Regions from separate parts of the Homo sapiens genome. Here regions 2, 3, 4, 5 and 6 are each linked to region 1. The links come from fine-mapping of genetic effects on gene expression. A gene starts in region 1. Each other region holds a variant in brackets. All regions are shown on one strand. Distances are between the middles of the regions.

Region 1 (5,075 bases):
AGCAGAGATCTGGTATCTTAGTGGAAGATATCTTGTCACTCTATTTGCAATTCCTCTAGAGTATAACACTCTTCCTTTTCCCTGGAATGCATCCCTTTTCCTCCCTAAAGTTGCCAGCTACTTACTATTCATCCTTTAAATCCAGCTCAAAACCACTCCTCTGCGAACTCTTACACCCAATCCTCTTATGCAGTCTGTTTTTCCATCCCCAGTGCTCCCAAGACTGGGAGTATTTCTATCTCTTACAGCATTATTGTACTGCTTGTAATTATTTATTTATACAGTAATAGACTGCATGATCCTTTCCGGCAGTCTTAATCTTTGAATCCCTAGTTCCTAGCGTGGTGTTTGGCACAGAGTTAAGAACTGGAGAGCCGATCACTGGATACATGAAAGAATGATCAAAGTCTAAAAGTCCCTACTTTCTTTAGATCTTGTGGGGAAAACACTTGAGGGGATACACCTTTGGACACATCATTTTGATAAATCAGGCCCATAATATTTGAGAATTGATTTGAAAGGAGTCAGTAAATATCTCAAGTGGTGTGAGTCAAAAAGGCTAACAGAACCAGGTGTGGTGGCTGATGCTTGTAATCCCAGTGCTTTGGGAGGCTGAGGTCGGAGGATTTTCTTTTTTTTTTTTTTTTTTTTTTTTGAGAAGGAGTCTCCCTCTGTCGCCCAGGCTGGAGTGCAGTGGTGCAATCTTGGCTCACTGCAACCTCCACCTCCTGGGTTCAAGCGATTCTCCTGCCTCCGCCTCCTGAGTAGCTGGGATTATAGGCACATGCCACCATGCCCGGCTAAGTTTTATATTTTTAGTAGAGATGGGGTTTCACCATGTTGGCCAGGCTGGTCTCGGACTCTTGACCTTGTGATCTGCCCACCTCGGCCTCCCAAAGTGCTGGGATTACTGGTGTAAACCACCGTGCCCAGCCAGAATCTTTTGAGGCCAGGAGTTTGAGACCAGCCTGGGCCATAGAGCAAGGCTTCATCTCTACAAAAAAGTAAAAATAATAAAAAAAAATTTAAAAGGCTGGCAAGGATGGATTTAAAGTACTTAACACAACACCTGAACCATGCAAAGATGGCAAGGTAAATTCTTCGTTATATTGTTCAAAAAGAGACTAGAGTTTGAGACCAGCCTGGACAACATAGGGAGACCCCCGTCTGTACTAAAATGAAAACAAACAAACAAATAAAATAAAAAGAGACTAGACACGATAGATCTTGTAAAAGGTATCTATTAAAAACGTGGCCGGGCGCCGTGGCTCACACCTGTAATCCTACCACTTTGGGAGGCCGAGGTGAGCGGATCACTTGAGGTCAGGAGTTCAAGACCAGCCTGACCAACATGGCAAAACCCTGTTTCTACTAAAGATACAAAAATTACCCAGGCACGGTGGCGGGCGCCTGTAGTCACACCTACTCTGGAGGCTGAGCCAGGAGAATCACTTGAACCCGGGAGGCGGAGGTTGCAGTGAGCGGAGCTCGTGCCCCTGCACTCCAGCCTGGGCGAGAGTGAGACCCCGTCTCAAAAAAAACCCCCAAAAAACAAAATCAAAAAACAAAAACAAAAACAACCGTAAAAGTACTAAGTGCAATGTAGTGTCCTGTGTTGGATCTTGGAACAGAAAAAATGACACTAGTCGAAAAAATTGGTAAAATTGGAATAAAATCTGGAGTTTAGTAAATAAATAAGCTAACAACGCCGTTAAGTGTGACGTGTTTCCATACCATCGCTTTCCTACCATCCTAGCTTCCCTATCTACTGTAGGAATAGAGGATATGGTGTTCAAGGTGGGTGTTTTTCTCCGCCTCGATTGAAGAGCTTCGCGCTCTTTGGATTAACAGCCAGGTCATTCACAATTCAGTGTTCAGTTTTTCTATTGGGGTCCAGCGTCTCGGAGTAACATCCCTTTGTGTCATGGATACATCCAACTCTGGACTTCCCCATTAGATTCTGGCAAAAGCCCCACCAGAGCCCCCGCCAGAGCCAGAAGGCGGTCCCTCAGGTCAGGAAGGGGTTTTCCTGCCGCCGGAGCCGCGACCTCGGCTAGCGGTGGAGCGGGGCTTCGGCGGAGGGAGGTGCGGGGCCTCGGCGGAGGGAGGTGCCGGGGGCGCCGCCCACGGCCTCCTGGGCTCGGCGCGCGGGGCCGGGCTGCGGTTGGCCACAAGAGGCATCCATCTTCCCGGACCAGCCAGGCGTTTCCTAGCGGAGCAGGGGCGGGAGCTTGGACGGAGAAGGGCACAGGCCGGAGCGCGGTCCGCTCCCGCGAGCCTGGCCCCGCCTGGCGGAGCCCCGAGGAGCCACCGCCCGCAGATCGCTAGCCGGGCGCCCGCGAGGCGCGAGCCGTGTGCGCACCCTCAACTTTGCTGCCGCCGGGGGCGCGGCTCCCGCGTGCGTGTGCGAGTGTGCCTGTCACTAGCGGCCTCCTGGGGGCAGCAGCGGAAAGGGGGACGCAGAGAAAGGCAGCCTCGGCGCACCGCGGCCAGGGAGGCAGAGGCCCCTCGCGGCGCCGGCTCTGGAGACCTAAACTCCGCCGGGGCTGTGCCCAGGGCGCGTCTGAGCGTCGCCGCCTTCACCCTCTCAGCAGCAGCGGGGACTCGCGTCAGGACTGCGATTCCTTTCGCCTGCCGAGCTGTAGCGGCAGTGTCTGCGGGCAGAGGAGCGGCGGCCGTGGCAGCAGCATCCCCAGCCCGGGCGGGACCCTTGAGCGCCGGAGCCGACAGCTGGAGGCAGGAAGGGAGGGTTGTGGCGCCCGAGCTGGGCGCGTTCCCAGCGCCTGCCCTCCGCCGCTGGCCCTGTCCCGGGCGCCCGGTGCGGGTCTCGAACAATGGTGCGGAGCGCCGGCGCGAGCCCCGCGCCCGCCCAGCGGCCGTAGAGGAAGTGGCCGGGCTCCCGGCGAGGTGGGCAGGGAGACGTCCCCCGCCACTCGCTGGCTGGAGTTTGCCTGCGCGTCCGGCCTCTCCCCCGGGGATCCCCTGGGATTACCGACGGAGCTCAATTTCGAGAGTATGGTGCCAGCGCCCGGGCTAATCTAGTCCTCTCTACTCGCTCTTTTTCCCCTCCTCCTCCTACTTCTCCTCTCCCTCCTCCCTTCCCTCGGGTCGGCGCTGCCTCTGGATTGCCTGCGTGTGGGAGTACAACTCTGCCTCTCCAAGGAGAACGGGTTGTGACCACTGAACAAAACTTGCCCATTGAAAGCAAACCCGGAACAGCTGGATAATGTCCACCCCGAGCCGATTCAAGAAGGACAAAGAGATCATAGCCGAGTATGAAAGTCAAGTCAAAGGTAAGGATGGGAGCGGCTGCCTTGCTCCTTTTGTGTGCCTTCTTGTCATTGTGCTCGTGGAGTTGCGTATCTAACTTGGTGTCTGCGTGGGAGGAAGGTGGTGAGGGGACAGCTCGAGCCCTGTCTGAGCCACCTGGGCTTCCTACAAGCCAGTTAGTTCCCAGTTGCAATCCCAGTCCCGTCAAACCCACGGGGAGCTGGAAACTGGGTGACTTCCCCCGCCAGCTGCCAGCCCGCATCTCTAATGGGGAGAGAACTGGCTTTAACTTAACCACCTTCAGCTGGGCAACTTATGTGGGAAGCAGGCAGCAGTGGAGGATCCTGTCCAGCTATTATTATCACCATCATTATTCTTTTTAAATGGTAGGATTGTCACTACGTAATTTTTTTACGGAATGATTTTTGTAAAGTCTGTGAACCCCAAGCGGTCTACAGCCTCATTGAGTGCAGGCTATTTCAGATATTTACACCACTCACCTATTTACACCGCTCACAATTTATTAGGGCGAGACCCCTTTTATTAAATAGCTCCCTAAAAGCCTGGCAGTTAAACGAAGCAGTGACTAGTGGAATCTGACTCTTCCTTTATAATGGGCCAGAATTCATTGCCATCTTTCACACTCACATGGGAATATTGCTTTATCATTTTCTGGAAGCCACTTGCATGTAAAATGAAGGTTTGAATATTTGAGTAGTAGTTTCAGTCCATTTACATTGTCAACTAATGAAGGAAACCTAATTAAGGCTGATTATTTTTACTTTCTATGCCTTGTGATTAAAAATATATATATTTTCTCTCCAATACAAGTATTTTGTTTTGTTACTGAAGTGTTTCGTAAACATATGTGTTACTTGAATTTTTTCCTCCTCTTTCCTGAGGTCTCAGGAGTAGCTTTCCTGATTGAGACAATGGATGGAATGTTGGGACCGCCACTGTTCTTTGACACATTCAATGCAAAGTTCATAAAGATTGCTATGTATACACCTGTGTTTATCTATGCACAGTCTTATGAAAGGGCTACGGAGAGAGGCATTACTGTACTTCCCTTGAGCAAGGGAGGAGCAGCCTGAGTGTTCTTTTGTGTGGTCAAGTTGTAAAAATGCCTGGAGTCCTGTGAGAGGACCTGGTGGAGAAATCCTGTATCATCCAGTGTGAATACAGACCAACTCATTGTGGACACTGCAGACACAATATGCAAGATAACTTAGGTTATCTTTAGGAGGACCCCTATAATGGAGTTATCTATAGGCTGACCCCTATAATGTGTTCAGGAGACACAGATTTTTGTCTGCTTGGAATTGTGATAATTTATACTTACAGGAACTTGTTTCATTGCTATGGAAGTTGTGTTAGCAGATAAGTAATTATTTTCTTAGAGCCAGGTAAACTTTCTAATGAGACTAACCTTTCTTTTTTCAGTGAGTCCAACATAGCCTAAAACCTTTCATTCCAGGGCAGTACTCTTGTTCACAACCACCATTTCTCTGTGCAGTTTTTCCACATGGCTCTTTGTGGCAGGTCTTCAAGGGGTGGCGGTCTGGTTTTTCTGCCGCCTAGAGCACTAATTGGCAAATGCACTTCCAAATGTTGATTTCTTTATGTTTGCTGTAAGGTCACTTGCCAGTGATCAAGTCCTTATTTGAAAATCAGCGAAATGGGATGTGTTGCAATGTGTCTATCAAATTCAAACGGAAGAAAAATCATGAACATGGTGAAAATCACATTTGGAGCTAAGTCTGTCCCACAGAGAATGACCTTCTCCCTATTTCCTTCAACACTTC
Region 2 (5,075 bases), 260 kb after region 1:
TGATTTATTATTCATTTTCTGGCAAACAAATACTTCTACAAATAGTCCACAGAAGAACCAGTATTTTCAGAGTGATGACCATTTGAACTTTTTGCCATTTGCTGAAGTAACTTGTGTTTTATGGTAAATTTTTCACATGCATTTACATGGAGCTATCTAACCCGCCTGCTGGGAAGTTGGGACGCTAACATGAGAATCTTGCATTGCTGGGAAAAAAACATATATTAGCCCAGGGAGCTTTGAGCATGTGATCAAGGTTGGATGAATGCCACTTTTACCTAATTACATGAGACCTTGAATTGTGGAAAACAAAGCCCAGCTTACAAGAAATCCAAGTGAAATACTGATTTTCCCCACTGACAACTTTTCTGAGGGGAAGAAAAGACCCATCTTTCCCTCCAGCATGAAATTGTGAAATTTGCCACACTCAGAGCCAGCTAGGAACACACATTCATCAGGGTGTCAGCAGCAACCATAAATTTTGCCCACTAACTGGACTCAGGACAGTAAATGAGTCATTTGTACCAGAGCGAAGCTCCTGTAGGATACACATTGCGCGCCTGTTGAGCAGCCAGCCAGGTAGAATTGGGAGTCCTGCTCGCAGCCATCACGGTTAGAGGCCTTCGAGACGAACAGATTTGCTACTACTTCAGGAATGCCAGCAGTTCTGTTTTGCTTTGATTTGTGTTGACTGTAGTTAAAGAGAATGTACATCTGCCTCATATAACTTTATCTAGTTTTTTTAGTGTCACTTATGTCCTTGTTGCTTTTCCCCTGAAGTCTTTCATTTGCATCCCACAGGCCCCCTCATTCTTTTATTGTGGTAAAAATATATATATATATAAAAAATATAAAATTTACCATGTTAACGATTTTTAAGTGTACAGTTCGGTGGCATTAAGTACATTCACAATTATCACCACTATCCATTTCTAGAACTTTTTCATCTTCTCAAACAGAAACTCGGTACTCATCAAACAATAACTCCCCATCCTCCTGCACCTCCGCCCCAGGCCCTGGCTTTATCTCTTCTGCTTTCTGTCTCTATGCATTTGCCTATTCCAGGTACCTAACATAAGTGGAATCATATAATACTTGTTCTTTTGGTGACTGGCTTCAGTTAGCATAGTGTCCTCAAGCCTCATGCATGTTGCAGCATGTGTCAGAAATGTTTTTCTTTTTAAGGCTGAATAATACTGCATTGTGTGTGCATACCACATTTTGTTTATCCACTCATCTGTCGATGAACATTTAGGTTGTCTCTACCTTTTGGTTATTATGAATAATGCTACTCTGAAACTGCTGTACAAATATTTGTTCCCTCAATTCTTATTAAATAAAATTTTAAAACTGCCTTTAAGAGGTAGAGGGACTAAGTTTAGAACCAAGAGATAGAAACAAGAAGATCTTGAATTAAGATTAAACTTCTTGAGGCCGGGGATGGTGGCTCATACCTGTAATCCCAGCACTTCGGGAGGCTGAGGCAGGCAGATCACTTGAGGCCAGGAGTTTGAGACCAACCTGGACAACGTGGCAAAATCCCCTCTCTACTAAAAATACAAAAATTAGTCAGGCATGGTGGTGGGTGCTCCTAATCCCAGCTACCTGGGAGCCTGAGGTATCAGAATCACTTGAACCTGGGAGGCAGAGGTTGCAGTTAGCTGACATCACCCCACTGCACTCCAGCCTGGATGACAGAGTAAGACTCTGTCTCAAAAACAACAACAACAACAAAATCTCTTGGAATTAATGCCTATGTCCTGTAGTTACAGAGAATGTAGCCTCCAGAGTGACTTGCTGTCTATGGGATTTGACAAATATTAAAGATGAATAATATAGTAAGAGTGGTTCTTTTTACATCCTTTCCTTTCCTTTTGTTTTTAACTCTAGGACTTTAAAACTAGCGTTAAGCTACAAAACTCCTGTCCCTGATAGTTGACCTTAACTTTATGATTATTAATTGTTTTAGAGACAATGTATTCCTCTGTTGCCCAGACTAGAATGTGGTGGTGTGATCATAGCTCACTGGAGCTTC[G/A]AACTCCTGGGCTCAAGCAATTCTCTTACCTTAGCCTCGACCTTAACTTTAAAATGAGGATTTGCTGGGAGAATGAGGAAACTTCACTTTTGAAACACCCAAGATTCTCAATAAACAGCGGGAGAAGTTTTATTGTTGTCTTAAGAATAAATCATAATATGTATAATTTCGCTTTTGAAGAGTTTTTTCTTTTTCATTTTTAGAGATAGACTTTCTAGATACAGGTATGCTAAATCATCTTTGTCTTCTTTAAAGCAGCAACAACATTACACTTTTTATAAAATCAGCTATTTTAGGTAATAAGCATTCAACCAGTTAATTTCTGATATGAGATAATAATGCAGCTGTGTTGAAATAGTATTTAAAGATACAGAATTCCCATTAAATTCTCAATGACTTGCAAATTACTTCATGTTTAGGCATTTCATCTTCCCTCTCTGTACAATGTGGTTTTGCACATATCACATGAAGTTGTCATGGAGATAAACAGCTTACTCTGGGACATGTCTTGATCCTACCAGGACCAAACTGGGTGGAAATGTTGATAACTTAATTATTGAGTTATTGTGGCCTGAGAGAATTTATACACCTGTTGAATAACTTCTTTTTTAAGCATCTTATTCCCTCTTTTCAGGGAAAAATAAATCAAGACCATTGCCTGGGAAGTATGTTAACAAAGTGCTTGTATGCAATAGACGTAACCCTAATCTGCCTTGTTCATAGCGTTATATTTTCTCCATTTTGAAATATTTTACAAATAAAAAAGGCAAAATGTAGTATATTCAATTCAGTATTACTAAGATCACACTATTATAAATTATAGATTTATATTGAAAGAATAAAAATGAAAGAATGAGAATGTTAATTGCATGATAATGTTTTACTTACATTCTGGTTCAAGAGTTTCTGAAATTGCATTTGCTAAAAGATGACAGAGCTACGGTTCCAACTTTGGCATACTTAAAGGTGGGAATGGAAGTGGTTTTTTCTCAGGAATCCTGATAAATTATTGCTTGTTTTGTCAGCTCATTCTTGGTTAATCAAGAATATTCCTAATAGATTTTTCGTACCTTTTCAGCTATGCAAAAGGGAAAATAGAATGCCCAGTTTGATAATAAGTGGAAAACAGCTGGGGTCAGCACTCAAGATTCCAGGGAAATAAGCTTAGCAAGAGTAATTAAGACAGTGGTTCTCAACCCTGGCTGCATAAAAGAATCTCAGGCATCAGCATTTTTAATCTCCCCAAGTGAATCCAAGTCAAGGTTGAGAACCACTGATACAAGAGGAATCGGAAAGGGAAACTGAGTTAGGAGAGTATTTTGATAGTCTAAGTTAGAAATAATCAAGACTTCAGTTAGAAAATTAGCAGTGAGATATCTAGAAGTAGAAACTACAGGACTTCTTTCCCATTCAAGGGAGAAAAATGAAGCAAGGATATCATCTTAGAAGTGATGTTTGTAACCTTGCAACTGGATGAGGTTGCCATTGAGGAGAACCAGGTAGATATCTTTGAGAGTTATCCACATTTATAGGTGGAAGAAGGTTTAAAAAACAACAATAATAATGAGAATGAGTTGACTATGGTGTCAGAGGCTATGGACTGAGAATTTTCAAGTATTTTCATGAATATCTCAAGCAATTAAGAACAATATGGTGATATAAAAGTATAGGAAGCTTCAGAACTGTTTTCAAACATAATACTTTTTTGGAAATATTTTCTCAAATGTATGCTTATTGGGTATCTTCAAAGTTGTACTTTGTAAAGGTACAGCTTTACAAAGTGGTAGTCTTGGGATCCAAGAAAGGCAACCAGACTTATGAAACAGAAAACAGACTTGTGAAACAGACTTATGAAACAGGACACATAGGTTGCAGTCCCAGGTCTGCCTCTTCTAGCCCGCTGACCTTGGGTATGCCACTTGCCCAGTTCTCATTTTCCTAATCTGATAAATGGGGATGACAGTGTGTGCCCTGCCTACTGCAAAGTTTATTATTCCTTTTAACTTAGATAGCAAGTGTGAAAATGTGTTTTTAAATATATAGAGAATTATACAAATAATGTGTTGTAGTAGTAACCTTTTTGCTGATGTTCACAAGCACTTTAGTATTCAGACACTTTAGACAGTTTGTATTCCTGGTAAAGAGGTAGCATAACACTAGTCTCAGGTAATCCTGTCTTGGGGGAGCTCACCATCCCACAGGGAAGACGAGATAAGGAAATAAATAGCTATAAACATCAGGACATGCATCATATGAAGGCAGGAATTGTATTGCTAATGTATTCTTAGTGCTTGAAACCTGGTGGGCTCTCCTAATATTGATGGTATAATGTAATACAAGGTGAAAAGTCATATAAGTAAAATGCAGTGGTAATTTTGAGAAAGGAGAGATTCTAAACCTGGCACATTGCCTGGATCATAATTATAGACAAATATATGATGAATTAATGCATAACAGTTCGGGGAGAGGTGCCATGCCCCAGAAAGCTACTTTGGTTAGCATGCAGCAAGAAGTTGAAATCATATCAGATGCAAAATTTAGAATTAGCAGCAAAGGAAAAAATGGTTTTTAAATCTAGAAGACTCTAAATTACTCAAAGCCAAGTCCATGAAAATCGGAGAAAACGGTAAGGGTCAGAGGAGATGCCCTCTGGAATGGTGGTATACCCAAGCCGATCATTTATTCGCTGTTTTGGTTACAATTGGATCTCACACAAGAGCAGGGTGTTGCTTATATTCAGATGTGTACCGGTAATACATGTACTGCAGTGTTCTGTTTTAAATGTGGCAAGTGAAAGGACTCTGACCATGTCATCTTCTGTCTGTAGGAATAGATAATCTCTATGAGAGGGCGCTTCACATCCGCAAACTCCTCCTGACTTTGCCCAGGTCGGTCCTTATAGTGATGAGGTACCTCTTTGCCTTCCTCAATCAGTAAGTACCTGAATGCTCTGACAAAAGGCCCATCTGAATTCTGTCTTTGTTCTTCGATCCTGTAAAATGTACGTTGGGTTCCATTTATCAGCAGAGTCAAAGAGAAA
Region 3 (5,075 bases), 190 kb after region 1:
ATAAAGTTAGATTTGATTGTCTCCCTAATTTTGATCCTGTAGAGAGACCTCATGTTGTCATGTTGTCATCTCTAATAGATGAGGGTCAGAAAGGCTGAGGTTACAGAGTTATTTTGCAGCAAAGCCAGGACCAAAATCCAGGTTTGTTGTTCATAGACCTTTCCATTAAAAATGCTACTCTGTAAATTTACTAGGGGCAAAATCTCAATATGCTATGGTGTTGCAGGACTTTTCCTTAGTTCAACTAAAGACAGGGTTCTTTGTCCCATGGCCATGAAAATTTAGGCTCACAGACAATTTGAATGGTGAGTAAGACAGGGTTTTATTTGGTGAAAAGGAAGAAAAGGGGGAAACAGAACTCTCCCTGGGACAGTGTCCCATGCTCCAGTGCTTCTCCCACTGGAAGACTGAATCTCAGGTTCTACACAGGAAGAGGAGGGACCAGCTCCTTCCCACTGCAAAGGGCCTAAACTTGCCGAGGTTCCATCCCATGGGCAGGCCAGTTGGCGTTTCTCCAGTGACCCCCTCCCACCTGGCTGTGTCAATGGTAGTATGAGATACTTTCATTTTTTTACAAATAGTTAAAAACTCTGCCTCATCAGTCAGATCTCTGGGCTGAGAGAGATCCTGAGTTTGCCCCACCATTGGATTGCTTTGTGGGTCAGAAGAGAACTGGTTTATCCAGCAGCCAGGCATGGAGCAGGCCTGGGCCAGCACAGAGTGACCCAAGGCAGTGCCTTGACCAGAGCCACGGACCTAGCTCTGCACATAAGTCCTGCCCCCGACAGCTGACAACAAGCCCCCACAGTCACTTTTTAAATTCTGGATGACGTGATTTCCTATTACAAACAAGTGAGATGAGCTTTCAAAGCAAAAAAAAAAAAAAAATTCTGCCTCATGTTTCTTCACTTATTATTGATCTTGAGCACATTTCAAACATTTCTTTAGCCTGTCTGTGAATTTTCTGCTGCATTATTTGACCCATCTAAATGTATGAGTATCAGTGCTTTTACTTTTTAGCAATGTACATATTTTCATATAATATTAATGTTATTTTTGCATCAAACATTTTATCTACATTACCTTTTTTAGTCATTTTTTATCATTATACAAAGTATGTGTAGAGGGAAACATCACACTGTACCCCATAAATGTGTACAATTTTTTTGTGTCAATTACAAATAAAAATATTTTTTAAATCCCCAAAAAAGAAAAAAAATGCCGCTCTGTATGATAACTCCTGAAACAAAAGTATTAACACTACAGTGAACAGAAGCTGATTATTTCTGTGATGTTTCTTAGCTTTATTTCCTCCCTTTGCATATGTGTTCTCCATTTTTCCCTTTGTTTTACTTAGTCCCTGCATCTCGTTTGCCCTGTCATTTGGTTACTTGGCAGTCCCTAGCCAGCAGGGTGCAGAGTCCCAGACAGTGTCTTTTGTTCAAAGCATTTGTTTGGATTATAAATATAATTTGATGATAAATTCAAACTGTTATGCTGATTTCATTTCAGTGGAGTCACAACGTATCTCAAATTTCCTTTGATAAACTTGCCCTAAAGACCGTATCTCATGCTATTTAATTGTTCACCTTGGTCTATTTGCTCATTCTAAAGAGTTTTGTGGCCAGGTGTGGTGGCTCATGCCTGTAATCCCAGCACTTTGGGAGGCTGTGGTGGGGGCGGATCACCTGAGGTCAGGAGTTAAGACCAGCCTGGTCAACATGGTGAAACCCCATCTCTACTAAAAACACAAAAATTAGCCCAGCATGGTGGCGAATGCCTGTTATCCCAGCTACTCTGGGGGCTGAGGCAGGAGAATCGTTTGAACCCGGGAGGCGGAGGTTGCAGTGAGCCGAGCTCATGACATTACACTTCAGCTTGGGTTACAGAGCGAGACTCCATCTAAATGAAATAAATAAATAAATAAGACTGGGTGCGATGGCTCACGCCTATAATCCCAACACTTTGGGAGGCCAAGGCAGGTGGATCATGAGGTCAGGAGTTCAAGACCAGCCTGACCAAGATGGTGAAACCCCATCTCTACTAAAAATACAAGAATTAGCCACTCACAGTGGCAGGCGCCTGTAATCCCAGCTACTCAGGAGGCTGAGGCAGGAGAATTGCTTGAACCCGGTGTGAGGGGGTAGTGGAGGTTGCAATGAGCCGAGATCACACCACTACACTCCAGCCTGGTGACAGAGTGAGACTCTGTCTCAATAAATAAATAAATAAAGAGCTTTGCTAAAATTCTTAACATATTCACTGATATGGTTTGGCTCCGTGTCCCCAACCAAATCTCATGTTGAATTGTAATACCCAGTGTTGGAGGTGGGACCTGGTGGGAGGTGATTGGATCATGGGGGTGGTTTCTGATGGTTTAGCACCATCCTGCTCGTGCTGTCTCATGATAGAGTTCTCACAAGATCTGGCTGTTTAAAAGTGTGTAGCACCTCCCCCTTTGCCCTCTTCCTCCTTCTCTGGACACATAAGACATGCCTGCTTCCCCTTCACCTTCCACCATGATTGTAAGTTTCCTGAAGCCTCCCCAGCCATGCTTCCTATACAGCCTGCAGAACTGTGAGTCAATTAATCCTTTCTCTTTATAAATTACCCAGTCTCAGGTGGTTCTCTATAGCAGTGCAAAAGCAGAGTAGTATATAAATGGAAATATTGCTGATTTTCTTCCTTTTACCTCTATTAGAAACAACAATCCCTCCAATCATGGAAAAATTATGACCTGTTATTGAAATGAATTATTTAATGGCATTCTTTTCAAATATCAATAGCTGACATTTACTGTGCACTTATATGTCAGCCTCTTCTGTGCTCTTCGTATGTGTTAACACATTTTATCCCCCCCACCACCTTAGGCAGTGAGTAATATTGTAATTCTGATTTTACAGTAAGGAAATTGAGGCACAGAAAGGTTAGGTTACTTGCCAAAGACCTCACAGCAAGTAAGGGCAGAGGCAGGATTTGAACCCAGGCAGTCTGTCTCATGAGTCGGAGCTCTTAACCATGAGTATGCTACTACTCAAACTGAATTGTCCTATAAATGCTGCTTTGCAAGTGTAATTGAAGTTTTGTAAACTTTGCTTTCACTGATTTATGAAGAGCCACATTGGCCCAGGGAGAGAAGGTGGGTTTGTGAAAGTTTATCATTGTAACAG[T/G]CCTGCTGGCCACTCATGACCTCAGGGATCAGCAACTCTTTCAGCCCTGATGCTGGGAACAAGAAAAAAAAAAAAAAAAGAAAAGAAAAAAAACTTTCTGGTTTCACTTGCAGGCCTTAAGTGGGAGGTGGGGGATGGGATGGGAACTGAGAAACAGAGACATCCATTGTAGGTGTATGTTAAGGGCTGGCTTCTCATGCCTTTATATCCTTTATATAAATGAAATATATTATCCATTTTTTTCTCTCCCTAAATGGGCTTCCAGACTTAAATATAAGCTGATTACAAAGAAGCCTGGGAATTTTTCTCTACCTAATTCTCACTCAGCCTACCCTGAAGTCCAGCAACTGCCCCTCTCCCACCTCTGCATATATCCACTTCCTATTTGTAGTGCAGTAAGAGTAGGCTGGCCTTTGTGTCACCCCTACTGGGGAGAGATTATGTCTTTCATCTCTAGTCTCAAGGCCTAGCACAGTGTCTGGTATTCAGACACTCAGTAGCTGTTTGGTGGATGAATAAATAAAATCAGTATACATTGCACCCTGAAACCTGGGCTAATGTCTACCTGATTCTAGAGTAACTGTCACCATACATTGAAAAAGGCGCTAATTATAAGAGGTGTGTGTAGACAGGCCAAAAGCATTTCCAAAGTGTGAATTCAGGAGTGTTTTATAAATGTGTGTCTTTGCAGTCGCCTCCAAGGCCATCCTTACTGATATATTGTTTTAGTTTTTATGAGGTTTGTGCTAGCCCAGTTCTCAACATGAAATAGCAAAAAGGCATCTGTTGGTCTGCTTTTATTGTACCTCAGTTCTCTCTGCTGCTTTGCCTTTGGGAGACAGTGGCCTGCACCTATCTGCTTAGAGCCTGGATATGAAGGCCCAAAGCCTGCACTGTTACTTCTACATCATACCTTAGACACTGTCAAGAATCATAACTACCCACCGTGCTGTGTGCTTACATTCTGTCATTTCATCCCCATTTTACCTCGAAGGAACTGGAGCTCAGGGGCATTAGGAAACTTGCCCACTTAAGAATTGATGGCACTGGAACTCAAATCCAGGTCTTCCTGGTTCCAGAGTCTGTGTTCATCAGCGGGTTTGGCCAGGTATACTAAAGAGCAAGAAGACTGGAGATTGCAGATGTAAAGATCATGGCACACGTGTCCTGAGTGCTCTTTTTGAGGGAATTCCTGCCCACTACCACTGTCTCAAGCCGCCAGAGAGACAGCTTGCCCAAAGAGAGGCTGTGACCTGGAGGGAGGTACTGTGGCTGTGTTAGGTTCCTGGGGTTCAGCTGAAGGTGGCCCTGGTGGCTTTCCCCACGCACCTGAGAGTTTCCTGGGAAACAATGGGCGTGGGCTTCCAAGGCTGTGGTATTACCCCAGTGGTTTGGTTAGTCTGGCACTTGCAGAAATTCAGCTACAGTTAGAGTCCTCTTATGTATTGATTGTAGAAAATAGATCTTTATCTTAGGTAGTTGATAAGAAACCCAAAGAATGTAGTTTCTCAGAAGAGCTTTTAGTGATTAATGGATTTAGTGAAGCAGCAGGCTATATAGAGTTAGGAAATATTGTCACTAACATACTGTTTTTCATCTCCCTTCCCTGCCAAACCACCACATCATTTCTTTTCTGAGAGGCCATAAATTCCAACACTAACCATATTTCACAAATGACTTAGAACTATTTGTCATCCCATTAGTCCAATCCCAGGTATTTATTGCTGGTGCTATTTTGGAAGCCGAGGATAGAAAAGAACAATGCCAGATGCATTGTAGATGTTTAATAAATATTTGTTAAGTGAATAAATGGATGGACAAGCTTACTATAAAATGGGTTCTTATCCTTCATTTGATTCTCACCTATTTTACTCATACTGTATATGAGACAGTTTTAAGAATCTG
Region 4 (5,075 bases), 280 kb after region 1:
CAAAACCATTCTCTGCAAGGACAGTGGGTAACAGATCTAGGAGGAAAAATGTCAGCAACAGCAAGGTTCCAAAGAGAAAGTGTGATCACATTTTATATAACATTACAAGAAATGGAAATATAAGATTTGACAGCACCAGGCAGTCAGGGAATCAGCTGTGTTGAATTGTCTTCCCTTTTGCACAAAATTATATTACCCATGCAGGAAAACTAAGTGATCATGTTGCACTCTCACTATTATTGTTATTGATAGCAGCAGTAGCAGCATTCTATGAAGTCTCTGCAGGACCTTGAAGTACTGTGAGGCTTTCTATATGAAAGAGGCACAGTGTACCATGCCCTGAGATTGATTTGCTCTGCAATGACCAGACTAAGATGTGTGTAAATAGCTTATTGATTGACACTTGACTGTGAAATGGCTCTCACAGGAGTAGAAAGAGTAAAAATAATGAAATTGCTGAGAATTACTAGTTGATGTACTAGGATTGCCAATAAAATGTTCTGCTGATTTATCTGGTCATCCTGTCATAACCTGACCACATTTGAATAAATAAGCAGAGTCTGATAATCCTGTTGCTTGTTTCAAAAAAATAATAAGGCCAGGCCCAGTGGCTTACACGTGTAATCTCAGCACTTTGGGAGGCCGAGGTGGACGGATCACAAGGTCAAGAGATCGAGACCATCCTGGCCAACATGGTGAAACCCCATTGCTACTAAAAATACAAAAATTATTGGGGCATGGTGGCACGTGCCTGCAGTCCCGGCTACTCGAGAGGCTGAGGCATGAGAATCGCTTGAACCCGGGAGGCAGAGGTTGTGGTGAGCCAAGATCACGCCACTGCACTCCAGCCTGGGAACAGAACAAGAGTCTGTCTCAAAATAAAATAAAATAATAATAAGAGGAGATGATCATAGAGGTCGTGATTGTGCAATTATAATAAAATATGTATATATCTGTTGAATAGTTTTAACTATGTTGAATGGCCAGCATTGACAGTGTGTGATTGAATGTCATTAAAGAATATTAATGGTTCTGTCTTTATTTCTGTAACATAAGTATATGTAGACTGTATACTGTATCATGTGTTGGTATCTTTTAATTTTTGTAAGTAAAGCCAAATACAAATATGTGGGTGTGTTCACACAGGAATTTGCAAATTACATGTCCTGAAGTTCTTGTAAATAAATTAGCATGCCACGTCTGTAGTCCTAGCTACTTAGGAAGTTAAGGTGGGAGGATCACTTGAGCCCAGGAGTTTGGGGTTACAGTGAGCAATGATTGTGCTACTATATCCGGCATGGGTGACAAAATGAGACCCTGTCTCAAAAAAACAAAAACTAGCATGTCTTCATTCTTCCATGGGGTGTTTATTTCTTTTTCATAGGAATAACTGGGGTACATATTTGGGTATCTGTCATCTCAAGTCAACCAGGATTTATTCTTTAAGTTTTGAACTATAATGAGATCATTCCCTTTAAATATAAAGTTATAGTCCCTCCTCTATGAAGCAGACACATAGATGTTTAATAAAGCTGCTATTTATATTGTTTTGGTAAAATATAATTTGGGGGAATACCAGAGTGTTAACATATAATCTAAAAGTTTTATTCAATTGCTAAAGGATTTATTTATTTATTTATTTATTTATTTATTTATTTATTTATTTTTATAGAACTGAGGCCTCACTGTGTTGTTCAGACTGGTCTCCAACTCCTGGGCCACACAGTGATCCTCCTGCCTTGGCCTCCCAAAGTGCTGGGATTACAGGCGAGAGCCACTGCACCCAGCCACTAAAAGATTTAAACTGTTGTTTTAAACATTATCCTTACAACTACTTTGTTGGGAAGCCTACTGTGCAGATTATAGTGTTGTGGTTCTGCAATACAAAATATTATTCGCCTCAAACATTATCCACTAGAGACCAGGCACCTATAATCCCAGCACTTTGGGAGGCCATGGCTGGAGGATTGCTATGTTGCCCAGCAGTTTGAGACCAGCCTTGGCAATGTAGCAAGACCCTGTCACTGTTTAAAAGAAAAAAAAAATTATCCAAAGCAAAAAGAAGGGGCATTTTTCTTTGTCTTTATTTAAAATGTTTGGCTGAAATTTGGCCAGGGCCTTTATATAATAAGGTGAAGCCTAAGCTTTTTAATATGTTTGTTGGTTTTTATGCTTTCGCCTTCTATGTCCCAGAGAATTTTGAATATATCAAATGAGAAAGAAGCCCAGCTGTCTGTCCAAGAATTTCTCATGCAATGATTATAAGTACAATGGCTATTGCAGTAAACTTTTGGAAGAATAAACT[CTT/C]TTAAATGGGAAGGTTTGCTACCAAATAGAAGACAACTTCCCGGGGAATTTTTGAGATAGGCAGGTTTTAATCTCTTCTGTGTACACGTATTCTAGAGTATTTGGAAATGAATGCATGCCCAGTTTTTAGCAAATGATGTATTGTTCATTGCATAGGCATATTCCTGTAAGTATATGCCCCTTGCCTTGGCCCCTTTTTGTCCTGTTTATTATTGAAGAGAAGTTTACTCACCTTTGTTGATTACAAGGCTAAGGATGAGGTATTTGTGGGAGAGGGGAGCAAAGATCATAAGGCCTCAAATTGAGGAGCTTCTTGCAGTAAGATAAATCACAAAGAAACACCTCTTTGGTTGCTGAGTCTGTCCTCCTGTTTGCCTTCAATATTTGTGGTCAGAATTAGATCAGAGCTGAATTCCAATTGTAAGTCTAGCAGTTGATATCTTTTTTTTTCTAACTTATTATTTTGAAATCATTGTAGATTCACAAGCTGTTGTAAAAAACAATACAGAGAGATCTCGTATACCTTCTGCCAGTTTCTGTCAATGGTGATATCTTACAAAACTGTAATATCATTTCACAAGCAGGAAATTGACAATGATACAAACCATTCACTATATAAATGTTTCAGCAGCCTTACATGCACTCCTTTGTGTGTGTGTTTACTTAGATCTGTACAGTTTTATCACATGTATAGCTTTGTGTGACCACAACCCATACTCAAGATAACAAACAGTTCCATTACAAGGAACCCTTGTGCTACCTTTTGTAGCCACGGCCGCTTCCCTCCATCACCTTCCCATCCCCAACCTCTGGCAACCACTAATATATTCTCTATCTCTATAATTATGTCATTTGAAGAATGCTATATAAATGGAATTGTATGGTATGCAATCTTTTGAGATTGGCTTTTTTCACTCACCATCATTCCCTTGAATATCTTTTGATCTCAAGAAAAATAAAAATTTTGCATCTGTTTTTTTAATTTGGACAGAGGGCAATTTAAGGCATATTTGTTTTATGGTTAAGATCCAAAATTTGTTACTGATACTAGAGAAAAAAATCGGGATTACCGTCAGTGTTAGTTTGAAGATTTGATAGTGCCAGAGAGCACATGGGGAAATTAAATGTATTCACATACTATTTATTGTGATTTTACTTGATTTTTTCTTAAGTAAGCCGGTAAAGCATAAACTTCCTAATGTTCTGAGATGGTGATTTTTTTCCATGTTATAAATGGTATTAACATGTTACAAGGAAATTCCCTCAGTGTCATCTATCAATGCCAAAATCATATTGAAGCAATTGTGGAGGATATTACAACTCAAGGAGAGATTTTATATATCCTATTGCAAAGTTTAAAGTATTTTTTTTTGACTGTCATTATATCTCTAGTAAGAGGCTGTGGAAATGAAAATCCAGTGTTCAGTTTTTCTTTGTCTGAAAAACTGATGACAGCAAGATAATGTTTTTCTGTATCTTTTTAAACAGCCTCTATTTTCTCCTGCCTTGATAATATGTTGATGACTCTGTTCAGTCTAGATATTAAAATGGTCTTGATCATTTGAAGCCTCATAGAGCCCTCACAGATAGGATACCATGCCTTCCTAACAACCCTGTTTCTCGCTGTTTTCTGGTGTGTTCGTTGTAGAATGTGAGCCAATAGAAGCAATAGCCAAGTTTGACTATGTTGGGCGGTCTGCCAGAGAACTATCCTTCAAGAAGGGTGCCTCCCTGCTGCTGTATCACCGTGCATCTGAGGACTGGTGGGAAGGCAGGCACAACGGGATTGACGGGCTGGTGCCTCACCAGTATATAGTGGTGCAGGATATGTGAGTAGTCTCAACTTTGATTGCCTGAGTGCTCCCAATAGAGGACTCCAGCCATTGTTCTTAAACTGACCTTGGTCTTGTGAGAAAGGAGCAGAAGGGATTACAGAGATAAAACTTCAGAGCTAGGCACAGTTCCTTACCTTGCCAGTGGCTCTTTGCTAACAGTAAGTCAGGGCCCAGGAGGTTTGGAACAAGAACTCTGGGGAGACATCTTCTGAAGCTTTCAGATTGTTAGAAAAATAACCTATGCATAGAATGGTGTTAAGAGCTGAAGTGACATTGGTAATTCCAAAAACAGCAGTGCTCTTCTCTTGATGTCTGTTTACCGTTTCAATTCCAGATTCCCCAGAGGAAGGACACTGACCTAAAGTCAGAGGGAATCATTGCTATGCTGTTTTTTGTTTTGTTTTGTTTTTTGCTGAGGAGAAAGCTCTAATTTCAAAAGTATTTAAAGACATGGGAAGATAGTCATAACATATTAAGTGAAAGAAACAGGTTGCAAAATAATGTGTAGTCCAAAAGTAGCTTTTTAAGGAAAAGACAAATATAGCACACAAAAGGTATACAGTGACTGAATCATTCAGCCTAATTTCAGAAATGTTAAAATGTGTATCTCGGAAGCCAAGAAATGTGTGTATATGCAGACATGTAGTCATATATATCTGAAATATCTACATATAAATATATTCATATATAAAATAAATTTGCATAACTATCTGTACAGTCATGTACCACACAATGACATTTTGAGCATCAATGGACCACATATATGATGGTGGTCCCATAGGATTTAATATCCTATTTTTACTGTACCTTTTCTATGTTTAGATATGTTTAGATACGCAAATACTTGTTTACACCATTGTGTTACAACTGCCTGTAGCATTCAGTACAGTAACATGCTGTGCAGGTTTGTAGCCTAGGAGCAATAGGCTCCAC
Region 5 (5,075 bases), 150 kb after region 1:
CCTATGCGTCTTAAATAGTAGAGTTTTAAAAAAATAATTTAGACAGAGCTGTGAAAGTGCAATAATTTTCTTGTATATGAGCTCTTTATGCAGAGATCTCGTTTGGTTCAGCAGGTTTTTCTGAGCATCTCCTATGGGCAGGAGACTACGATGACAGGTGCTGAAAAGGCTACAAAGATGAAGAAAATCTATTCCTGGTGCTCAAGGAGGTCACAATTTATCCAAATTTGTATGGCACTATATAATGCTTCTTATTCAGACAGGGCCTCTAGGACCAGTAACTCTACTGAGTTCATTTATTTATCCATTCAACAAAGCATCTTTAAAATGCCTGGCTAGGGGAGCAGAGCTAAAAGACATGTCCCTGCCTGCAAGGAGCTCATTACAGTAATTAACAGTTACTACGCTAAATGGAACTGGAAGGCTGGAGATCTTAACTCTACCTAGGGGATGAGGAAATTGTTCTCAGAAAGGGGAACACTTGAAGTGAGACTTGTAGGAGAAGGAGGCATTCATCTAACAGAAGGACAATGAGCTATTCCAGGAAAGGAGAGCATGAGCATGTTCAGGGAAAGGAAAGAGTTTGATATGATTGGACCAGGGATCGTATGGGAGTGGGTGATGGGATGTGAAGCTAGAAAGGATGGTCATGTAAGAAGGGACTTTGTACGTCTTGCTAAAATGTGAGGATGTGTATTTTGTAAGTCAGAGTCAAGGGCTTGATAAAGTTGATAGAAACCTAGGGCTAAGAGTCAAACAGATTTGGATTTAAATCCCAGCCCTTCTGCATACTTGCTTTGTGATCTTGGGAGATCATTCCAGAGATTCAAGAGCAGGCTCTCCATTCTTGAGGAAGCAAGAAAGGCAAAATTGGGCAGAAGGAGAGGCTGCACCTGTGAGTGCTCTGGGGCTGGCATGGCATTTGGAGTGATCTCATATCCAGGCAAGGAGACTTGGCCTTTGTTTTGGGGAGGGATTAAGTAATCTTGGAGTGAGGCAGCTCCCTTTGGTGGAGGGTAATTCCCAGAGAGGGATCAGCTCTGAGTTTCAACAGCTAGCAGCCGGTATTCCCAGTAGTTGGAGGAATGAGTTGCTGGCTCTTGAGGAATGGCCTGGAGAATGCACAGTAAATACACACACACACACACACACACACACACACACACACACACACACACACACACACACGTGCAGAGAGAGAGACAGAGAGACAGACAAAAACAGATATGTCTTCTTGCTTGCTACCAGGAGTTCTCTTCTTATCCAGATTTTCTGGTTCTCAAAGAATTTCATCCTTGGAAACTGCCTATTTACAGTGGATTCCTGGTTACTTTGGCATTTAGTAGGGGGAATGCTCTATGCTTCCTGATCAGCTTTCTCATTCCTAACCATTGCTGACCACCTGGAAGGGTAACAAGTCATTACAATTACAGGTGTGAAGTTCTGCCTTCCTCGAGCAAACACAGCAGACTACAGACCTTACCTTCCCATCTGTGTTATTGCTGGAAGAGGAAAGAACAAGAGAGGCAAAGGACACAGGGAGAAATCAGAGTTTACGGAGGAGTAAGATCAACCCCTAGGACACATTTGTCATCTGAAAGAATAGGAAGCCAGAATCTATATCTACCAAGTCCAAAGAATTCCAGGTCCCTTTAGATTAGAAAGTCTTTCCTGCCTTTTTTTTTTGTACCCATTTATGCCTGAGGTTGCAATTTTTTTAATTTTTACAATTAGAACTTGGCAATTACCTTGACCAGCAAGATACAAATTACTCCCACATGCTTAGCATTCCAATAGTGGAACACTAGGCATAAATGGGTTTTAATCACCGATCTTCCTCTTTTCTAGCTCTTCTTCCATTGTTATGGTTCTAGGTCAGAAGCCTATTTTCTATCAAAATGGAAAGAAATTATTAGTGTGAATCTGAAGCAGCCTTTAGAACTGCTGTGGAGTCATTAGTGAGCATAATGCTTGTTTTCCTTGGGGAGAAGATTTTGAGACTTCCGCATGTTTCAATAAT[G/A]TCCCCATGTCTGTATGGAGATCCAAATAAATGCTGTGTGCCTGATAGTTTTGGCCTCTTAAACAGCCATATCTTATACAGTTTAGTCAATGACAAAAAATCATTTACCCAAATTATTCTGTCTGATAAGGAGTTTGGAGCAGGTAATTTCAGGAATTTTTTTCTGTCTAAATGGATATAATAATCAAGAAGACACTTGTAGAAATAATTCCATGCAGAGCTATAGGGAACAGCTTCAAGACTTAAATCTTAATTACATCAGAACCAGTTATAGACATAGTTGCCTAAACTCAAAAGTTTTCAACAGGTTAAAAAAAAAAAAAAGTGAAGCATTTTAAAAATAACAATATTCAACTATTCAAATACTGATTATTTTAGATTTATGCCTTTAAAATTCTAAATGAAGCCTATTGGTCAAAATAATAGTGATTCAGCTTTTAGGTTCTGAAATCAGATATTCTGGGTATGAATCCTGGCTTTACCACTGTTGGGAGCTGTGTGGACTTGGGAATATTTGTAAATACGCCTCAGTTTCTGCAGCTATAAAGTGGATATAGTAATCTACTCCAGATAGTCGTTTAGAGGATTCATGAGTTATATATGGAAAACCACTTAGCCTAGTGTCTGGACTTAATAAGTCCTGGTAACTTTTATCTAATATCTTTATTATTATCTCTATTATAAGCACTTATTCTATATACCTACAATAATTATGTAATGTGAGATTATACCAAATATTATACCAAATGTGTCCTCATTCTAAGGAGAGTATCATAATGATGTGAAAAACCCTTCCAGAGAATCAGTTTTATTTACTACTTATTATGAAGTTCCAAACAATATTTGTAAGCAAACAGTGATAAGTGCCCTCACAACAGCATTGTTTGTGGCTAAATTAAGAGTTTTGTCCTCACCTTTGAACATTTAGTGGGAAATCAGGGAGTATCCAAGTGAATGCACAAGCTGGCCGAGACTCCATGCCTCTCAAATCCCCCACAGCCATTTCACATGGAGCGCCTTACCTTTGAGGCTGAATTGATTTCTTCATTCAACAAAAGAGTTATTTAATTCCAGACCTTCTACTAGATGTAGACAATGTAAACACAGATAGGAGAGTACTCTGCTTTTAACCTCTTAAGTTCTGCTTAGCTATTTTAAGAGAAGGTCAGAATTTGGAGGCTCCTGCTACACAAGGGCTTGTTTCATTCTCAACCCTCACTTGTTTCCCAAAGAACCAGGGCTGATGTGCCTCTTGCCCTGTTCTCCAGCTCTGCCTTCTGCAGTCATGAGCTTTTGCTTCCTTCTTTCCATTACTCATGCTGAAACAGAGTACTCTGCATCTGGTTTGGTTCTGCAGCCAGAAAATGTGCAGTTCATATGCTACGCATAAAAATGTAATTAATGTCATCTGTCACAGTTGCAGGACAGGCTATCCAGCCAGCTTGCAATAATCACTTTATTTAAGCACCTAATCACAAGGTGTTATTTACCAATTTTAAGAACGTTAATAGAAGTATGTAGTTTGGAGGTATACCATCAAATGGTGGCATTTGAATATGTTAGGTTATCTCTATGGGTTTTAAATTACCTTGAAGTCTGTCATTTCCCCAAAGATTGTTTTAAAATCATTAATATTTTTTATCCTTCCTTGGTTTACATAAATACATGTACAATATAATTCATCTTGTTTCTTCACCAATAATGATATCTATAAGCTGCCACTTACTGAGTTTTAGCTATGTGCCAAGCACTGTACTCTACATTTTCATAAATTAGCTCACATATCCTCACAGCTGCCCAGAGAACAGGTATTATATCCACACTTCAGGGATAAGGAAACAAAATGCTCAGGAGTATAAATTGCAGCATCAGGCTGACTAGCATGTATTCTTGTCTTTGCCCGTATGTCTTAGATAGTTCATAGCTCCTATGTACTCTGTTGGTATTTTTTGGTGGTAGAGATGTCACCCAATGCATAGGGTCAGAAACTTCTGAGAAATAGGACACTATGGTTCTTGTCCTAGTCATTCTTATGAAAAGACTGAAGAATGATATTCTGGGAAGAGGCACAACATTTGTCAATCATCCAAGTTATAGGGAGGGATTCAAAGCAGCAGAAACTGGCCCAAAGCCAGTGAGAATAACCCCTCTTTGGCATAAGTCCCATAGGTTGTCAGAGTCAGACTCACAGAAATTCAGTTGACTCACTTTAGGTATTGCTGATTGTGTGGCTTAATCTGAAAGAAAGGAAAGGTTACTAGTAAGATTCATACTTATTTTTTATTTTGATCAAAGACAGCCATATTCTATTTAAATACCCCAACATGAAAAAAAAAGCAAAGATATTTTATGGAGGAGAAAAGCTGTAGTTTCAAATACACCATTTAAAATAGGTTAATATTCAAACATGTTTTAGTAGAAGTTAATAAAAGATACCACTTGACTACAGATCTCTAAGGCTCTGACCTTGTTTTTTTTTTTAAAAAAAGTACCATAAGTTAAAAGCATCTGAAAACTACCAATCTCTATATGTGAAAAAAGAACCTATTTCTCTTTGAATATAAAAATAGATATAGATTGTAGAAATTTAGAAAACGCTATAAATATAAAAAGAAATAATAATTACCCATATTAACACTAACTACTTTTAAATTTTAGGCTCTATCTTTTCACTATTTATATGTGTATACATATACTTAAATATATATGTGTATATTTTACAGAATTGAGATTTCATTCTATATGGCTTGGAAAGGTGCCATTTTCATATAGAATATTATTAGCATTTCTCACATCTGGAAATAGGCTACCTCATGACTACATAGTACTTTACTATGTGCATGGCCATGTTAGTTTTCTGTTGTTAGACATTTAAATCTATGATTTTTTTTCTTATGCTACATTTTTTGAAGTAGAATTATCAAGTCAGAGGGTGGCCTTTGAATTTTGTTAGAATTTCATGTCTTGAATTAAATTCTTACTGTTTTCTTTTCTGGAGTAATGATGGTCATGGTTGTCATGTACAAACAGGTCATATATTCGCTGAAAAATTAAT
Region 6 (5,075 bases), 140 kb after region 1:
CAGTGACTCACGCCTGTAATCCCAACATTTTGGGAGGCCAAGGCGGGTGGATTACCTGGTGGTGCATGCCTGTAGTCTCAGCTACTCAGGAGGCTGAGGCAGGAGAATCACTTGAACCCGGGACGCAGAGGTTACAGTGAACCGAGATTGCGCCACTGCACTCCAGCCTGGGCAACAGAGCGAGACCTCTATCTCAAAAATAAATAAATAAATACATTTAAAATATATATATATATATATATATATATATATATATATATATATATATATATATATATATTTATATATATTTCGTGACTTATATCTTGCACATACCAGCATACCTCATTAATTTTAATGTAACCATCCATTGGCTTCTCTTCTCTCCTTAGAAATTCGAGCTCAACTGGTAGAACAACAAAAATGCCTGGAGCAGCAAACGGAGATGCGAGTTCAGCTTCTCCAGGATCTGCAAGATTTCTTCCGAAAAAAAGCTGAAATTGAGACGGAATATTCCCGGAATCTAGAGAAGTTAGCAGAAAGGTTCATGGCAAAAACAAGAAGCACTAAGGATCATCAACAATACAAGTAAGAGATTTGAATCTAATTCACCTTTCCAAGGGTGATATCCATACTGCCTTTGCCACCTTTGTGGATTTTTTATTTTTCTATTTTTGTCTGAGTAGTGGTTGTAGAGCATATTCTCATAAATAAAAGCAGCCCTCTACATTTGTAACTTATGGGCATCAGTTTATCATTTTAAACTAGTGTAATCTGTTGACACTTTTGTCTTTCCAATACATATATATTTATGGATAGCTTTATATGCCAGAAGAGAAGGTATATGTTTGTAAAATTCTTGATTATAGAAACCCGGGAGTTGATATCTGCTATAGGTAGGACAGATTTAAAATAGGTTTTTGTTCAAGCAAAGACCTCAAATTTTCTCTAGTGAATTTATATGAAAGTAAGCAGTAAGAATTGCTTGAATTTTGTGCCCCCCTTCCTGCCCATCATGTTTATGGTCATTGTAATTGACACTGATTTAAAACAAAAGTTTTAAGGAAAATGCTATGAATGAGCATAAAGTAAGTTTAATTATGATTTATTTGCTTTAAAAAACACACATAAGATGTTCTGCTAATGAAAGTTAATGTATGATTTAAATCCTGGGGACAGGGCCAGGTGGGGTGGCTCATACCTGTAATCCCAGCACTTTGGGAGGCCAAGGCAGGTGGATCACCTGAGGTCAGGAGTTCAAGACCAGCCTGACCAATATGGTGAAACCCCGTCTCTACTAAAAATACAAAAATTAGCCAGGTGTGGTGGCATGCACCTGTAATGCCAGCCACTCGGGAGGCTGAGGCAGGAGAATAGCTTGAACCTGGGCGGCGGAGGTTGCAGTGAGCTGAGATTGCAACACTGCACTCCAGGCTGGGCAATAGAGTGAGAGTCCATCTCAAAAAAAAAAAAAAAAGGCCTCAGGACAGAGAAAGACAAGTAAGCAGACAACTCCAGTGAAATATTCAAGTGCTCCAACAGGGGAAGGCGGGGGAGACCCTGGACAGACCCAACTGATATCTGTTCTGCATTGGAGGTGGGGAAGGGAAGGTCCTGAAAGAAGTGGCATCTAAGCAAAGACCTGAAGGACTAGTTGGTCAATAAAGGAGAGAAGAGGAGGATATTCCAGGCAAGGGAAACATCATGGGCAAGGGGCCGGCAGGGAATGTACCACGCCTGGCTAAGGGATGTACAGCAGGTTTGCAGAACAGAAGTAGTCCAGTGGGAGTGAGTAGGGAGGCGATGAGCTGCATGGCTGCAGGTGTGAATCAGAGGTCATGGGGACCTGGGGATCTTCCTGGCCAGTTGGGACCTTTTCCTGAGGGCATGAGAAGGAACACTGCAGGTAGAGAGAAGTTGACCTGTTTTGGAGATAGTAAAAAGACAGTGCAGGCTTTCATTTCTGTAAATACAGCAGGCCAGATCATCTGAAAAACATGTCTATCTGAAAACTCTCAGAAATGCTGGTTAACATATAATGGACATCCTTTTACATATAAATTTCTAGGGGCCAAAAAAAGAAGAGGGAACTGAAAACCTAAGTGGCA[A/G]TTGTATCCACCCTTTAATTTCACTTGGGGCAGAGAAGATAAGGTCTGTGCCAAGTAAAGACTTGGAACTGAGAGCTTCCTCCCCACCAACCCCATTGCATTGCATCCCAGAACCAGAAGAGCTACTATCTCAGTGAAATGGTAAAACAGAAACCCCTCTACCCACCTTCACAGGGCACAACAAGAAGACCTGGCTGCTCAGCCTGGGCTCCTGTTTGGAAGGGGCTGTGGAGAAGCATGCCTTTCTGTCACCATTGGCTTTGCAGTTCCGTTCATTTCACACCTCTCCATGACCTTGGACCCTGCATAAAAAAATGGGATGGGAACTATCCCTGGGCTACTTGTGCAGAAGCAAACACAAAACTATTCTGGATAAGAAATACCTCTCTGTTCTCTTCCTTTCTCTTCTCTCCTCTTCTCTCCTCTCTGTCTCTTCTCTTTTCTCTCTTCTCTTTTTTCTTCCTCTCCCTTTCACTCTCTCTCTCCTCTCTTCTCTTTTTTCTTCCTCTCCCTTTCTCTCTTCTCTCTCTTTCTCTCTCTCCCCCCCGACACACACAATCTCTCAACTTTAACCTTTACTGTTGGTCCAGCATAAAAATAAATCTTAATGATGATCCCCAGGGTGAACAAATGTTATATGTATTTAACAGAGAGCGGGGCTGGGAAGCAGAGGCTGGAGCCAGTACTGTATTCACATAGTAACTTAACTGTTGCTTTTAAAAAGCAGTTGTAATTAAGAAGACAGCCCATTCATCTATTCAGTAATTTTTTTTTTTTTTGAGATGGAGTTTTGCTCTGTCGCCCAGGCTGGAGTGCAGTGGTGCAATCTCGGCTCACTGCAACCTCCTCCTCCCATGTTCAAGCAATTCTTCTGCCTCAGTCTCCCGAGTAGCAGGATTACAGGTGCCCACCACCACGCCTGGCTAATTTTTGTATTTTTACTAGAGACAGGGTTTTGCCATGCTGGCTAGGCTGGTCTTGAACTCCTGACCTCAAGTGATCCGCCTGCCTCAGCCTCCCAAAGTACAGGGATGACAGGTGTGAGCCACTGTGCACAGCCCATTCAGTAAATATTTTTTAGTATCTTCTGTGTTTTGCATTTGGTAATTGGTGGCTGTGAAGGGAAAATATGGATGGGTCCATGTACCTTATCTGGCCCCATGGTGGATGGACACGTTTTTGTTTCTCTTGGTTTATTTGGTAGTTTTCTTTAAAAGGTAAGCAGTTTGAAATTTTCTTTAATTTGAGTAAGTTTATTATTGAATATGGGACTGAAGATAAGATGAATATGTCTCTGAAAAGGATAAAACAGGATTGGGAAAAAAGTCAGCCAGACTTGGGTTTGAATATTGGCTCCACTTTGTGACTTTGGTTAAGTTACTTAACCTCTCTGAGCCTTGGTGTCCTAACTTGTAAAATGAGGTTTTATGACCCTTAAGTGAGAAATGTGATAAACTCTTTGATACGATTGATAACCAGCCCAGGATATGCACTTGATATTCCTTCTCCTTTTAACCAAACACATGTTATGTCTTTAGCATGATATCATTACCAATCATTTAAGCTATATTCTGGAGTCTGGTTCTTACTCAGTTTTGGGACACTTATTGTGTAGAACATTCTTTGGCCTAAAGATGCCACTGCATAGTGGAAAGACCAAGGCTTGGTTTAGCTTCCCTGGACTAAAAAAAGACTCTCTCAGACACTAGCTTTGGTCTTTATCAAATCAGTATGCCTTGCTAAGCTTCCATTCTTTCACTGATAGAAAAGATACAAAGGGTCGGGTGCGGTGGCTCACACCTGTAATCCCAGCACTTTGGGAGGCTGAGATGGGTGGATAACCTGAGGTCAGGAGTTCAAGACCAGCCTGACCAACATAGTGAAACCTGTCTCTACTAAAAATACAAAAATTAGCCGGGCATGGTGGCAGGCACCTGTAATCCCAGCTACTTGGGAGGCTGAGCCAGGAGAATCGCTTGAACCCCGGAGGAAAAGGTTGCAGTGAGTCAAGATCACACCATTGCAGCCCAGCCTAGGCAACAAGAGCAAAACTCCATCTAAAAAAATAAAAATAAATAAAAAGAAGATACAAAGAATCTCTGCCTCAAATGGTAGTAATAAGGATTAAGTAGAGTTGATGTCTGTAAAATCTTTATACCAGCCCGTGATAAAACAGCTGACTTTATATAGCACTTACCATGTATACAAGGCATTATTATAAGCATTTTAAAATATATGTTAACTCCAGTGATTCTCATGAACAATCTTATAAGCACTGTTATTTTACCCATTCTACAAAGTAACTGAGGCACAGAGCAGTTAAGATCATTTGCCCAAGATCTCATAGCTAGTAAGGGGTAGTCCTGCATGTGAACCTAGACAGTGCAGCTCCAGAGGCCATGAGCTTGACATGGATATTACTTTTCACAGTAAGTGCTCATTAAATGATAGCTATTATTATTTTCAATATTACTACTACTGCTATTATTACTAAGGCAATAATAATTATTTATGCAATGAGTGAAATAACACTTATTTAATGTTTACTGTGGGGCAAGGCCCTGAGGATATGTTGAAGCATGAAATGTTCTGAAAGAATTTGTGGGTTACTTCAGCAAAGAAGATCTACATGAAAGTTAATAGAAATAAGGTAACATTTACCTTGTTATATAGGGCTGGGTAGATAGGAACTCTCAATAGAAAAGCTCCAATTACCTGTTATAGAACCACTGCTCTTTGCCTGATGGTGTTAAGAAAAAAGGGAGATCTCAGGGTAGAGGGTATAATTCTTCAGTGTGCCAATGGGAAGAATGGGAGGCTGCCCTCATGGGTGCCAAGTGCTAGGAGCCTAAATCAGGCCTTCTTTCCCTATGCCCATTCCTGCTTCCATTGTCTACTTTCATTTTCTTCTAGAGAGGGCATTGACTTAATGCAGTATTAAATCCTGAATCTGAGAGACGTAATGGCAGAGGCCCAACTTCATCATTT

Direction of the effects. Alleles are on the strand shown, and positions count from the first base shown. SD is a standard deviation of normalised expression in the study named. Not every link is listed here.
For the expression in monocytes after LPS of the gene that starts at base 3,110 in region 1, allele G in region 2 goes with a lower level than allele A (moderate effect, 0.59 SD a copy in Fairfax 2014).

Evidence for each region. PIP is the estimated chance that this variant, and not a neighbour inherited with it, causes the effect.
Region 2: its variant is the best candidate, but not a certain one, in a credible set for the expression of SRGAP1 in monocytes after LPS (Fairfax 2014, PIP 0.57).
Region 3: its variant is the best candidate, but not a certain one, in a credible set for the expression of SRGAP1 in coronary artery (GTEx, PIP 0.51).
Region 4: its variant is the best candidate, but not a certain one, in a credible set for the expression of SRGAP1 in fibroblasts (GTEx, PIP 0.79).
Region 5: its variant is the best candidate, but not a certain one, in a credible set for the expression of SRGAP1 in blood mononuclear cells (TOPMed, PIP 0.65).
Region 6: its variant is the best candidate, but not a certain one, in a credible set for the expression of SRGAP1 in monocytes (TOPMed, PIP 0.55).

Annotation. Positions count from the first base shown.
Region 1 is chr12:63,841,591-63,846,665 of GRCh38, forward strand. SRGAP1 (SLIT-ROBO Rho GTPase activating protein 1) reads left to right here and starts at 3,110. Exons shown (of 22, transcript NM_020762.4): 1 at 3,110-3,293. The coding sequence starts at 3,227. RefSeq lists silencers at 2,043-2,462, 2,523-2,582, 2,693-2,952 and enhancers at 2,115-2,616, 2,617-3,116.
Region 2 is chr12:64,104,070-64,109,144 of GRCh38, forward strand. It overlaps SRGAP1 (SLIT-ROBO Rho GTPase activating protein 1), which reads left to right. Exons shown (of 22, transcript NM_020762.4): 16 at 4,863-4,968. All of the region lies in intron 1 of LOC105369798 (a long non-coding RNA gene), which reads right to left. Among named protein-coding and RNA genes, the nearest start is that of KICS2, 120 kb to the right of the region's middle. The variant G/A (reference allele first, on the strand shown) is at 2,036.
Region 3 is chr12:64,031,813-64,036,887 of GRCh38, forward strand. The region is part of intron 4 of SRGAP1 (SLIT-ROBO Rho GTPase activating protein 1); the gene reads left to right. Among named protein-coding and RNA genes, the nearest start is that of KICS2, 190 kb to the right of the region's middle. The variant T/G (reference allele first, on the strand shown) is at 3,171.
Region 4 is chr12:64,122,022-64,127,096 of GRCh38, forward strand. SRGAP1 (SLIT-ROBO Rho GTPase activating protein 1) reads left to right here. Exons shown (of 22, transcript NM_020762.4): 19 at 3,956-4,136. The region is part of intron 1 of LOC105369798 (a long non-coding RNA gene); the gene reads right to left. Among named protein-coding and RNA genes, the nearest start is that of KICS2, 98 kb to the right of the region's middle. The variant CTT/C (reference allele first, on the strand shown) is at 2,306.
Region 5 is chr12:63,991,529-63,996,603 of GRCh38, forward strand. The region is part of intron 3 of SRGAP1 (SLIT-ROBO Rho GTPase activating protein 1); the gene reads left to right. It overlaps LOC105369801 (a long non-coding RNA gene), which reads right to left. Exons shown (of 5, transcript XR_945023.3): 4 at 5,002-5,062; 5 at 4,177-4,257. Among named protein-coding and RNA genes, the nearest start is that of SRGAP1, 150 kb to the left of the region's middle. The variant G/A (reference allele first, on the strand shown) is at 2,021.
Region 6 is chr12:63,983,576-63,988,650 of GRCh38, forward strand. It overlaps SRGAP1 (SLIT-ROBO Rho GTPase activating protein 1), which reads left to right. Exons shown (of 22, transcript NM_020762.4): 2 at 372-567. Among named protein-coding and RNA genes, the nearest start is that of SRGAP1, 140 kb to the left of the region's middle. The variant A/G (reference allele first, on the strand shown) is at 2,088.